Homo sapiens: one gene and its partners. The protein of the gene in region 2 purifies or fractionates together with the protein of the main gene of each other region. This does not show direct contact. Each region holds a gene or a part of one and is shown on either strand. Other genes may lie near its edges. The genes, in order: CORO2B, CNN3 and NEK10.

Region 1 (3,653 bases), on a different chromosome or scaffold from region 2:
CGGGTGGAGAGGTGGAGGTGGATGGGCTGATGTGAGTGTGTGTGTGTAGACAGCCTTTCTGACAAACAAGGCTGTATTCACCAAGGATCTCCTGGCGGGTATCTCAAATTCCATCATTCATCACTGACTACACTGCAGGCTCTGATCTTTATTCCAATGTAAAAGCCCGCTCCAGCTCACCTTTGAAGGAATTCTTGGTAGCAGACACTTGAGTAAGAATGGGTGTCAGACTTGAGGGCAGGTGTGGATGGGAAAGGTGAGGCCCAGGAACTTGGAAGGTTAGGCTGGCTACTCTCCAGGGGGTGGGGCAGGTGCAGGGGTGCATTGAGGGTAGGGCTCTCCCACAGGCTGCCCCGGGCCCTCCCCCACCTCCTACTACCTTTCCAGCCAGGTAGAGCATGTGGGTGTCAGCATCATAGAAGGGGAACAGGAGGCCAGAGAGCCCATCAATTTCCTCTTCGATCAGGGGCATGGAGAGGTCCTCCTGAGGGAGAAGAGCTGGTCTCAGCCTCTCTGCAGGCAGGATGGCATACCCCTCCCCAAATCCCAGGAAGGCCTCTTAGGATGGCAACTACTTTATGTTAAGACCTCCCCTAGATGTTAAAAAGCCCGTCCTATGGGTGGTGGCAAGACTGACTTTCTTGTCACGAAAAGCAGCCAGGGGCAGTGGAAAGGGTCTTACAAACAGGAGGCAAGGGACTTGTTCTCATTGTCCCCAAACCTGCTACTTGCTATGTGTCCCCAGGTAAGTCTCTCAATCTCTCTGGAGCTCAGCCCCCACTCTGGAAAAAGAGGGTGAACATCTTGCAGGTGTGGCCGACATTGTTCCTTGAAGCCTCTGTACCCAAGCTCGGCCTCTGGGGGTCTCTGTCTGATTTCTCCACTGGGAATGCTATGAGAAGCTGGTGTGCGGGCCCAGGCTCCTGACTTTCTGAGGAAGTGACCTCCGAGGCAACGATGCTTCCTTTAGCCCAAACCCAGCAGGCCTCCCCGTGGCTGACCTGGTCCCAGAGGGCAATCTGTCTTGTGTTCCACCTGGAGACCCCTGTCGTGAGGAGCCGCTTCATGTTCCCCAGGAACACCACCCGGTTCACTCTGTGGTTTTTGCAGTTGGCCTCCTAGTAGGAACAGAGGGAGGTGGTGAGCCAGGGTCCCCAACATGTGGGTTCTGCAGTGGCATGAATGGTGGTCCCGAAAAGATACACCCATGTCCTCAGCCCTGGCCCCTGCAATTATTTCCTTATTTGGAAAAGGGTCCTTGCAGATGTGGTTAAGCTAAGGATTTGGAGATGAGATTACCCTGGATTATCCAGGTGGATCCTGGATGCCATCATGAGTGTCCTTGTGGGAGAGAGGTAAGATTACAGAGACACACAGGGGAGAAGGTGTGTGACCCTGGAGGCAGAGACTGGAGTGATGTGGCCACCAGCCACGGGAGCCGGCAACCCCCAGAAGAGGCAAGGAATGGGTTTTCTCCTAGAGCATCTGTAGGGAGTACAGTCCTGCTGACACCTTGATGTGGGACATCTGGCCTCTGGAATGGTGAGAGAATACATTTCTGTTGTTTTCAGCCACCTAGTTTGTGGGCATTTGTTACAGCAGCCATAGGACACTGTTCTAAGCACTGTGCAGCAATGGCTCCACAGATGCCTTCTCTGCCATTTCCCAGAGAATGTGGGGAACAGGGAGCGAGAGGGGAGCCAACGTCCACCAAGTCCAGTTGGGGGCTACACCACTTCAGGAGCTCTCACCAGGGGCATTGCTTTTCATCCCCATAACAATATCTATCGGAAGAAATCATTATCCCCATTTTGAGGGTGAGGAAACTGAGGCTCAGGAGGACAAGAGACTCATGCCCATCACTGCTTCACAGCTTGCCTCATCAGGGAGTGCCTCCTTAACTGAGCTGTCTTGGGCCTCCTTTCCTGCCCACTGGCTCGTGACACTTGATTTCCTCCTAACACACAACAGTCCTCGGCATCAGGTAAGTTGGCAGCAAGTCAGAAAAGAGGCCAATGGGGCAGTGCACATATTCAGGCTGGCGTCACACACTCTGAACTCTAGTTCTAGCTCCACCAAAAAAGTGTAGCCCAAGAGAAGACCTTCACCTTCCCTGGGCTCATGGCCCCATTTGGGAATTGGAGGTGGGGGTTCTCTGTTCATAAACATTCTTTCTGCTTGGCATGGGCTCTGGGTTTGAATCCTAGCTCCTCCTGGAACTGTGAGATTCGAGTCTCCCAACTTCGCTAAGGTTAAGTGTTCTCACGTATCACATGAGAGGAGTAACAGCACCCAGCTGAGAGGGTTGTCCTGAGGATTAAATGAGATGATGTGCAGAGCCCCGGGCACAGTGCAGGCCACACAGTGAGCTCTTAGCAGATGTCAGTTAACACTAATCATGCTAAGCAACTCTCATTATTCTTATTTGTAGTGGTACAGGTTGAGTAGCCCTTATCTGAAGTGCTTGGGCCCAGAAGTGTTTCAGATTTTGGATTGTTTCCGATGTCAGAATATTCACATTATACCTACTAGTTGAGCTTCCCACATCCCCAAATCCAAAATCTGAAATGTTCCAATGAGCATTTCCTTTGGGTGTTATGTCAGTGCTCAAAAAGTTTTGGATTTGGAGTCTTTTGGATTTTGGATTTTTGGATTTGGGATGCTCAACCTATAGTACTAGAAAACTTTCTGGTCTTGTAATATTGGACTATTCCAAGGTAAACACACCCAGATCAAGCATTAATCCCTTCTTGTGTAGAAGGCAAACCTCAGATATCATCCATATTTTCCATTCCATCTCTCCCCATGACCAGCACACAGCAGGTGCTCAAAAAATGGTAATTTCTTACTTCCAAATGGCACTTAACCCCTTCCTCAAACCCAAGACCCAGGAGATTCAAAGACCAAAAGTGGAGCTAAGTTCACCATCAGCCTTGGCACCCTAGCCATTTCCCTCAGGCTCATCCTATCAAGTGGCTGGGCAGTGAGTCCAGTGTCTCCTCCTCCTGTGCCTGTGGTGGACCTGGGTAACACCTGGGGATGTATGCACTGAAGGGTGTCACCAGTTCAGCCCCCAGAGCAAGCCAGAAGAATCCTGTCTGGAGGTAGGGGGTGCAGTGGGGACAGGAAAGGGTATGAGGTCCCTCCCCACCCAGAACAAGGCAGGGTTCCTATGAGCTGAGAAGGGCCCAGGAGAGAGAAAGGTTGTTCAACAGAGGTGCAGTGAGATGCACTGGAGAAGGGGGCTGGCACAGCCTTTTTCTTCCAGGCCTGCTGAAAGCTGAGCCCCAGCCCTCAATACCTTCCCCTTCAATCTCAAAAAATGTAGGGTTCCACCTGCAGAACACGGCCAGAGCGGGGCTCAATCACACGCAGCTTCTTGTCCTTGCACGTGGTGGTGAGCAGGCTGCCGTCCGTGTTGAAGGACATGCAGAGGATCACATCCGTGTGGCAGTCAATCATCTTCACCGGCTCACCCACATCCAGGTTCCAGATGAGGACCTGCGAGGGCAGATGCATGGGAGGCAGGGTCAGTGGCTGCTAGGGTCCTGGGGTGTTTGTCCCCAGTGCACACTTGACTGCCCTGGGAGAAGCGCCCCATGCAGGGCCTGGGGTGTGCTGGGGTGCAGGAGGGGGTCATTGAGTTCTATATG
Region 2 (3,653 bases):
TCTAAACACTTTACATGGATTATCTATCTGATTTCTCCCAACAACCCTATAAAGATGAGTGTTATGATATCCTCATTTTACATACAAGACAGGCAGGTTAAGTCACTTGCCAAAGTTCACAGTAAGATGCAGAACCAGGAATCCAACCCAGTTCCCACAGTCCATGTTCTTAACCACTAAGCTCTACTTTCCCTGACAAGAACCTTGTATGACAGGTATGGAGAAGTCTTCAAGTTCAAAAGGGTTCACATGGCCATAGGTTTTTGTAAAACTTAAAAGATATTTATATATTTTTCATAATGAGGACCCCCAAATTGTATAAACTTCGTCCCCACAAACAACCTGGATCTACCTATGAGTTCCAAGAATCCTTAACAAAAATCTGAGGGTACAAGTACACATAAATAAGTTAAGAGCCCATTTGGGCTATAAAATAAGTTCAGAGTTAAGGAGAGCCAATGCACATGGTATATGCTACAGGAGGGTAATGCCTAGATTTAAATGGAACTTGCCAACAAATTCTAAGGACAAGCTTTCTCCAACCACCACCTAGTTTCACTGAGAAAGAAAATGCAGGGCTGGGCACAGTTGCTCACACCTGTAATCCCAGCTCTTTGGGAGGCCAAGGCAGGTGTTATCACTTGAGGTCAGGCGTTTGAGACCAGCCTGGCCAACATGGTGAAACTCCAACTCTACTAAGAATACAAAAATTAGTCAGATGTGGTGGCAGGTGCCTGTAATTCCAGCTACTCGGGAGGCTAAGCCAGGAGAATTGCTTGAACCTGGGAGGTGGAGGTTGCAGTGAGCCGAGATCGTACGACCTCACTCCAGCCTGGGCAACAGAGGGAGACTCCATCTCAAAAAAATAAAAAAGAGAGAGAAGAAAATGCATTTCCTCACTCTCCTGAATACAATGCTAATGATGGGTGAAAAACCAAAACGATCCAATTGTGCTTACTTTTTTTATGCCGCAGATCAGATTCATTATGACTTTAAGGATACACTGTTAAAGAGGGAAAGGAGGCAGGAAACACTAACCCTCATGTCCCAACCTGGAAGGGAAACAGGCACTGGGGAAAAAAAAAGCCTATACCTCTGTTGATGGTGGGTATTAGCGATGTCATCATTGTCAAGATTGTTTCTGAAATCTAAAGGACTGTCTAGAGACAGAACAATTTCCACAAATGTTAGACTGTAAAAAATCAGTGAGCCTGACGATAATCCTCGTTAAAACTCCAGAGTAAATAAGGATGAGAATTTTAAAGAGGAAGCATGGTATCTCTTGTCACTTCAGCAAAGTGTATCTTATTTATCTGTTTTGGTCAAGACAGGAAAACAAAAACTAAAGCAGACCAACAGCAATAGCTGGTTCCTACCAGGAGCAAAGTCCCTGGCTGAATGGCCCCTTCTCCAGCAGTATTCAGGAAAATGCAGGCACTGGACAAATCCTTGCAGAGGACACCTCTACCATTCCTAACTTGGAAGTCTAAGAAAGAGCCCAGTCAAAATATCTATCTTAAGAAATAATCCCAAAATCAGCAGCAAAGATGAAAAATTTCAACATAATATTAACTATTTAACTACTTAAGAAAAACAAGGCTAGGAATGGTGGCTCACACCTGTAATCCCAGTGCTTTAACAGGCCAAGGCAGTAGGATCACTTGAGGCCAGAAGTTCAAGACCAACCTGGGCAACATAGCGAGATCAAAAAATAAAATATTTTTTAGAATATTTTCTTTTTAACCACATCCTTCAAAATCATCACACTTGCACTACAGAATTATCTTATTTAGACTACAGAGTTAATTTCTAACTTCTTATGTCTAGAGATAGCAAAATCTATTCCCGATGAATAAATTCATTAAATCAACAAATATTCAAATATTTATTGAGCATATGCTATGTGCTAAACTATATTGTAAAATATCGATCTTGAGACACACCCGCGAATAAGAGAGCTTTATCTCTGGTGGGAAGAGACAGATAATAAGCAAACAAAAAAAGATTTTAATTAAAAACCAATTTCTGAACTTCCAAGTTTAAAAAGAAAAAAGCTAAGCCCACCAACACATTTTTACCAAGATTCTGGTGCTCTACCAGCAAGACAAGGCAAACCACCCTCGAGTGTAATTTATAGCTGGGTCACCCTGGGTTACTCTGATCAGAAGTACCCTCAGAGCAGCTGTGCGTCTAAAGCGCACCCGGCAAACAAGCTAGGAGGACTTCGCGGACACTGGTCCTATCTAATTATTACTGTATGATTGTTTAACTTCAACAACCAAAGATTTTGGTAATAAGCCTTTCAAGAAGGTTTTTAGGTGTTGAGAAATACCATTTTGTAATCAAGAAGATCCCGTGGGAAGCTGCTTTGCTCAAATCAGACATTCCAAGGGGGCAGAAGACTGGAAGAATGTGCATTCCAATTCCATGCTTCTTAATATTCCAGTTAGCTTCCTCCCAAAAAAACATACCGAGGTAAGATTATTTCAGCTCCCCATTTGTCAATTTATTTTTTCCACTTTCCCTGAGACCTGTAAGAAAGGTTCCTGCGGCATTTGCTCTAAACCTGATGAAGACATGCTTCACTGCGTCCTCTCTTCCCATCCAACTTTACGGGAAACTACCCCCAACTCCAACATTTTGCCAGGAAATACTGTGCTTCCCTTGAGTACCTGTTATGTTTTTTCATGGTTTACGAGGCACAGAGTTGTTTCACTTTTCATTTTGGTTCCCAAGATGCATTCAAGGGCCTGGTTCAACCTGTAGAATACCTGTAGGGCCCATTATTTTATGAGTGTTTCCATCCTCCACCGAACCATCCCTACCAGTGTCTGCATTTTCCCTGGCCCTTTTACTCTCTGATAGTTTTTGTAAACTCTAAGTTATTGATCATTTGGTGTCATTTTTTTCTTTGTTATTAAAGAAACTTTGTTCATATTCCAGGCTGAAAGACTGGAATTCTTAGGCTTTTTTTTTTTAAGGCTGTTTTCACACATCTTCTTGCCTATTAAAAAAAGTAAGCTTGTGTGTTCTGCCATGTATTATCATCTTACCAATCAAATGTCTTAAAGATTTTTCTCTGAAATTTTACTGATTAAAGTATTTAAAATCAGAGACTTCCTCAATTCATTGATGAAATGCTTTTACAGCTAGAATATTATATAACAAGACCAAAAGGTATTAATACAAACCAAATACTTAAAGAGGCAGGGACATACAAATCTTAGAAATATAATACTAAAAACTAATTTTCTGTTACTAAGAGCTAATAGCTACAATACAGTCACTGAGTTGAGTATAAGCCAGACACATCTCCACAACATGGTGTCTGGGGGTGGCAACTATTGTTTTCCCCCATTCTACAGAACAGAAGCTAGGAGAGAGATGTCAAGTAGCTAGCCCAGCATCACAGAAGGCAGGAAGTGGCAGAACGGGGACTAGAACTCACATATGCTAGACTCCCAGGTCCACTCCACACTGTCTCCCCAGGATGTTTCTATACTTCTTTGTTAAATGAGATGTGGGGGTAGATGGGGGGAATCTAGCATTCAAGCAATGTATCAATTATGCAATAAAGAAAAAGCAGGAAGGAATCAAAAGGTGTCAAACCACGCAATGTCACTTTTGTATATACCCACCTTTCACCCGGGAGT
Region 3 (3,653 bases), on a different chromosome or scaffold from region 2:
AGAGAACTAATTTTACTTCATTTTCCTCTAAATCCAAACAGTATAGAAATAAAGTAACAACATAAAATGCTCCATGCTTTCTGCACTTGATCTCAGCCAAAAGGCCGAAAAGTGACGCTCCATGCTTTCTGAACAAAAAATACTATATTAACTCAATACTTTATGTCTATTCTGCCTTATTAACAAAATTTTAATAAAAACTTGGGCCTATGATTTTGGCTAACCCACCTAACTAAATGGTGTGCAGAACACCACTGAGGGAACCAGTGTTTGCTTCCCGAAATGGTGACCTTTTGGTCAGGCTCACCAACACAGTATCTTGACCCCAGAACATCCAGCCTCCCCTTCAAATGAGCTCCTACACCATCAAAGACACACAAAAAAACAGTTTGTTTTCCCTTTGATTAAATTCCCTTTGATTAAAGTGAAATTACCCGATTGACTTTCAAATTTCTAGCTGGAAAAAAAGAAGCTCATATTTTAATGCCATCTTTTAAAAATGTTAATATCTTTAATTATCAAAAAGAAAGCTAAAATCACAGCAGTCACATGTAATTAAGGGGAGTTGTATTGATATAGCAATTTATGCTCTTTCATCATCATTCTGTTAATATTCAGTGTGGCTGGATACTGAATCACTACAGTAGCTCACTTCTATCTGTGAAATAAGAAATCTGAAGACACATGGTTTGCATACTGACGCATTATTTTCCTTCTGTTGCATCTAAGCCAAGTATGTGAAAACAGTTCAATCTAATGATCTCCTAAACCTAATGATCACTTATATTTCTCTAACCTCATACCTTTTAAAGAGTGGTCTGTTTCTTTCCATACTGAAGAGAAATCTCAAGGCTCTGAAAGCATAACACTAGAAAACAAAAGGATATGTGATTCTCAAATGGTAGCTCAACAAATTAAAACATTTTCAGGAAAGAATTAACAGGAAGTAAACATTAACGTGACTTTATTGTAAGTGGCTGGTCCAAGTTGGAGCCAAAGCTTCTAACTGAAAACAAAAAACACCAACACCTGGGGTCATTCCTGTATTTAAAAAGTGTTTATGTTGTAGAATGCAGGGAATATTGGCCTTGCTTCACTTGGTACTCGTCATTAATTTCTTTCTAGAAAGTACAAAATGAGTACAGAGACAAGAAATAAAATTCCGATGCTGAGAAAACCAAATGTCTAAAGATTTCCAGGAGCTCAAGGTTTATTTTGTTTCTAGCCTGCTATGTATACCTCAATATTTATATGGTTTCTGTGAGAAAATAAACACTAGAAATGATGACATATAAAAATAGCCGCAGGCACACTGGATTCAAACTTGACAAATTGGTCTCTTGAGTAAAGAGTCTTAAGCATTCCCCAAATAGAACAATCTACACTAACTCCCTAGAACGCTCAGAAAGAGGCCTGTGAGCCTTTACCTAGGAAAAATAAACATCTGACATTTTGCAGTACTGAGAAAAAAGAGTGTGCCCAGCCTGCAGCTGTGCCTGCACAATAGGCCACCATTGGAGTGATCAGGGTTTGGTGAATCAAATCTGGGATCATTTCCTAAAATCAGTGATCTGAACACAGAAGGGTCCCATACAAAATTGCCCAGAGAGGTGAGGCCGGTAACAAAATGACATGAAGGAGCCAGGTGAGAGCAGTGGAGACTGTGAGAAAGGGAGAGCATGCATATTCCTCAAAAGCCCTCCATCTGGAATTCTAAAAAACCCTCTACTGGCTTAACGAAATGTCTCTGCAGGATGGGTTTGTCTTTATCTGTTTAACAGCACAGTGTCATATATCTGTGATGCACTGAAGAAATCAAGTCCCATGCCTGCACCTTCCCGTTGGTAGCGCTCCAAAAACCCCTGCCTGCCAGCACAGAGACACCCCGAAAGAGTCTGCTGGGTTTGGCCATCATTTTGGATGATAACTCTTAAATCAGATTGGAGACAAAGGTTGTTTCTTTCTTCCTTTTCAAAATGACTTGGGGGAAAAAAAAAGATGAGCTACAACTATTGCAAAGACTAACTTTAAATCAGATTTTGACATTAGGGCCACTGCCCCCCGCCCCCACTCTGCCAATACCCACTCCTCAAAAACGAACATAGAACCCTGCGTAACTGTTCCCCTTTCTTACATGTGAGCCCTCAACTCCTGGAGCACTGCCTCCCCAAACCACACACCCCAGTTCCACTGAGCAGCTCACCCTTTACTCAGCTCTCCCAACACCCACTCCTCAAAAATGAATGTAGAACCTGGCTAACTGTTCCCCTTTCTTACATGTGAGGCCTCATCTGCTGGAGCACTGGCCCCCACAACCACACACCCCAACCCCACTGAGCAGCTCACACTTCCCTCAGCACACTCTAAGCTCACAGCTTTCACACTTGGTGCATGCTGTTCCCTCTGCATGGAATGCCCTTCCACCCTGCAGCAGATGCCATTGGTGCCCCACCCAATATCCCCTTATCCACTTGGCAAGTCCCTTCTCATCCATCAAGATCCATGATGGCAAATAATTTTCCCCCTGTTGTTATATTCTGATACATAAGGAATGCATATTTTTTTAAAAAAATAGAACTTATTGATAAGCAAAGAAACACCTAAATAAATCACCTAATTCTCCCACACAGAGAAACCACTGTTAAGCCTTCTGTATTGTTTTAATATTATTTGATTCCATGCCAGTCTTCCTTGCCAGATATTTTTCCCTCATAGTCAGTACAGGGACCAGTACTAACCTAAACATTCTAAAAATCATAGATCATTTTACCATAGTTACCCAAGATTTCAATAACTTGATACTGAAGGACAAGAGACATGTTTATTACCTGTAATAGATTACTTTTTGCTGCATTCTTTTGCTTATTTGGTAAAATTAATTTTGCTATTGTATATACACCATTTTCCTGAAAGAATAAAGGGGTCATACTATGAGTGACAACACTGTAGTGATACACAAGCAAAAAGAGGCAAATAAACAATCTCAAACATTAATATCAAAGAAGAAATATTAGTATAACTATGGACCTTGAAGTAAACATTACAGGACAATATTTAAAATGTCAACATAACACTTTTAAACACCAAAGAGTACAACTACAATTTTAAAATTTCAACTGTCTGTGGAGAATCAAGATTATAATAAAGTACATAAACGTAAAGTGATTCAAATACCTTAAAAACAATGAGAGATTAAAAAGGGACAGAGTAAAGGTGTCCCAATATCTTAGATTTATATCTTTGATATTTATTTATATCCTTAATTACCACAACCATAAAGGGAGAAATTATATTCCAGTTATTAATTTATGTCTTTATTATAATCTTGACATCTTTCTAGATTTTTTAATTGAAATATACACATGAAGGAATGAACAAATAATAATACCTTACAGCCACTTTTCTATTATCTAGTAAATATATAATGTACTGATCTTTACTGTGTGCAGGCATTCATATTATAACTGCAAAGAGCTTTATTTGCCTTATTGCATCTAATCTCTGTAACAACTCTGTGAAATTAGTCTATAATTTCCTTGTTTTATACATGAGAAAACCAATACTTAGAGTGGATACATTATTTTTTTAGAAGCCAAGCCAAGAAGTAATAATTCCAGGAATTGAACCTCAATCTGGCCAACTTCAGATGCCCT

What was found.
Region 1: the proteins of CNN3 (region 2) and CORO2B purify together in Homo sapiens (co-immunoprecipitation; one large-scale study listed by IntAct). This does not show direct contact.
Region 3: the proteins of CNN3 (region 2) and NEK10 purify together in Homo sapiens (co-immunoprecipitation; one large-scale study listed by IntAct). This does not show direct contact.

The regions. Positions count from the first base shown.
Region 1 is NC_000015.10:68,711,390-68,715,042, reverse strand, and holds part of CORO2B (coronin-2B), read right to left. Parts: intron 3,502-3,653; coding exon 3,337-3,501; intron 1,119-3,336; coding exon 1,002-1,118; intron 485-1,001; coding exon 380-484; intron 1-379. UniProt on the Homo sapiens protein: May play a role in the reorganization of neuronal actin structure.
Region 2 is NC_000001.11:94,920,536-94,924,188, forward strand, and holds part of CNN3 (calponin-3), read right to left. Parts: exon of another isoform or gene 2,333-3,653; intron 1,687-2,332; exon of another isoform or gene 1-1,686. UniProt on the Homo sapiens protein: Thin filament-associated protein that is implicated in the regulation and modulation of smooth muscle contraction. It is capable of binding to actin, calmodulin and tropomyosin. The interaction of calponin with actin inhibits the actomyosin Mg-ATPase activity.
Region 3 is NC_000003.12:27,292,785-27,296,437, forward strand, and holds part of NEK10 (serine/threonine-protein kinase Nek10), read right to left. Parts: intron 2,907-3,653; coding exon 2,829-2,906; intron 869-2,828; coding exon 804-868; intron 1-803. UniProt on the Homo sapiens protein: Plays a role in the cellular response to UV irradiation. Mediates G2/M cell cycle arrest, MEK autoactivation and ERK1/2-signaling pathway activation in response to UV irradiation.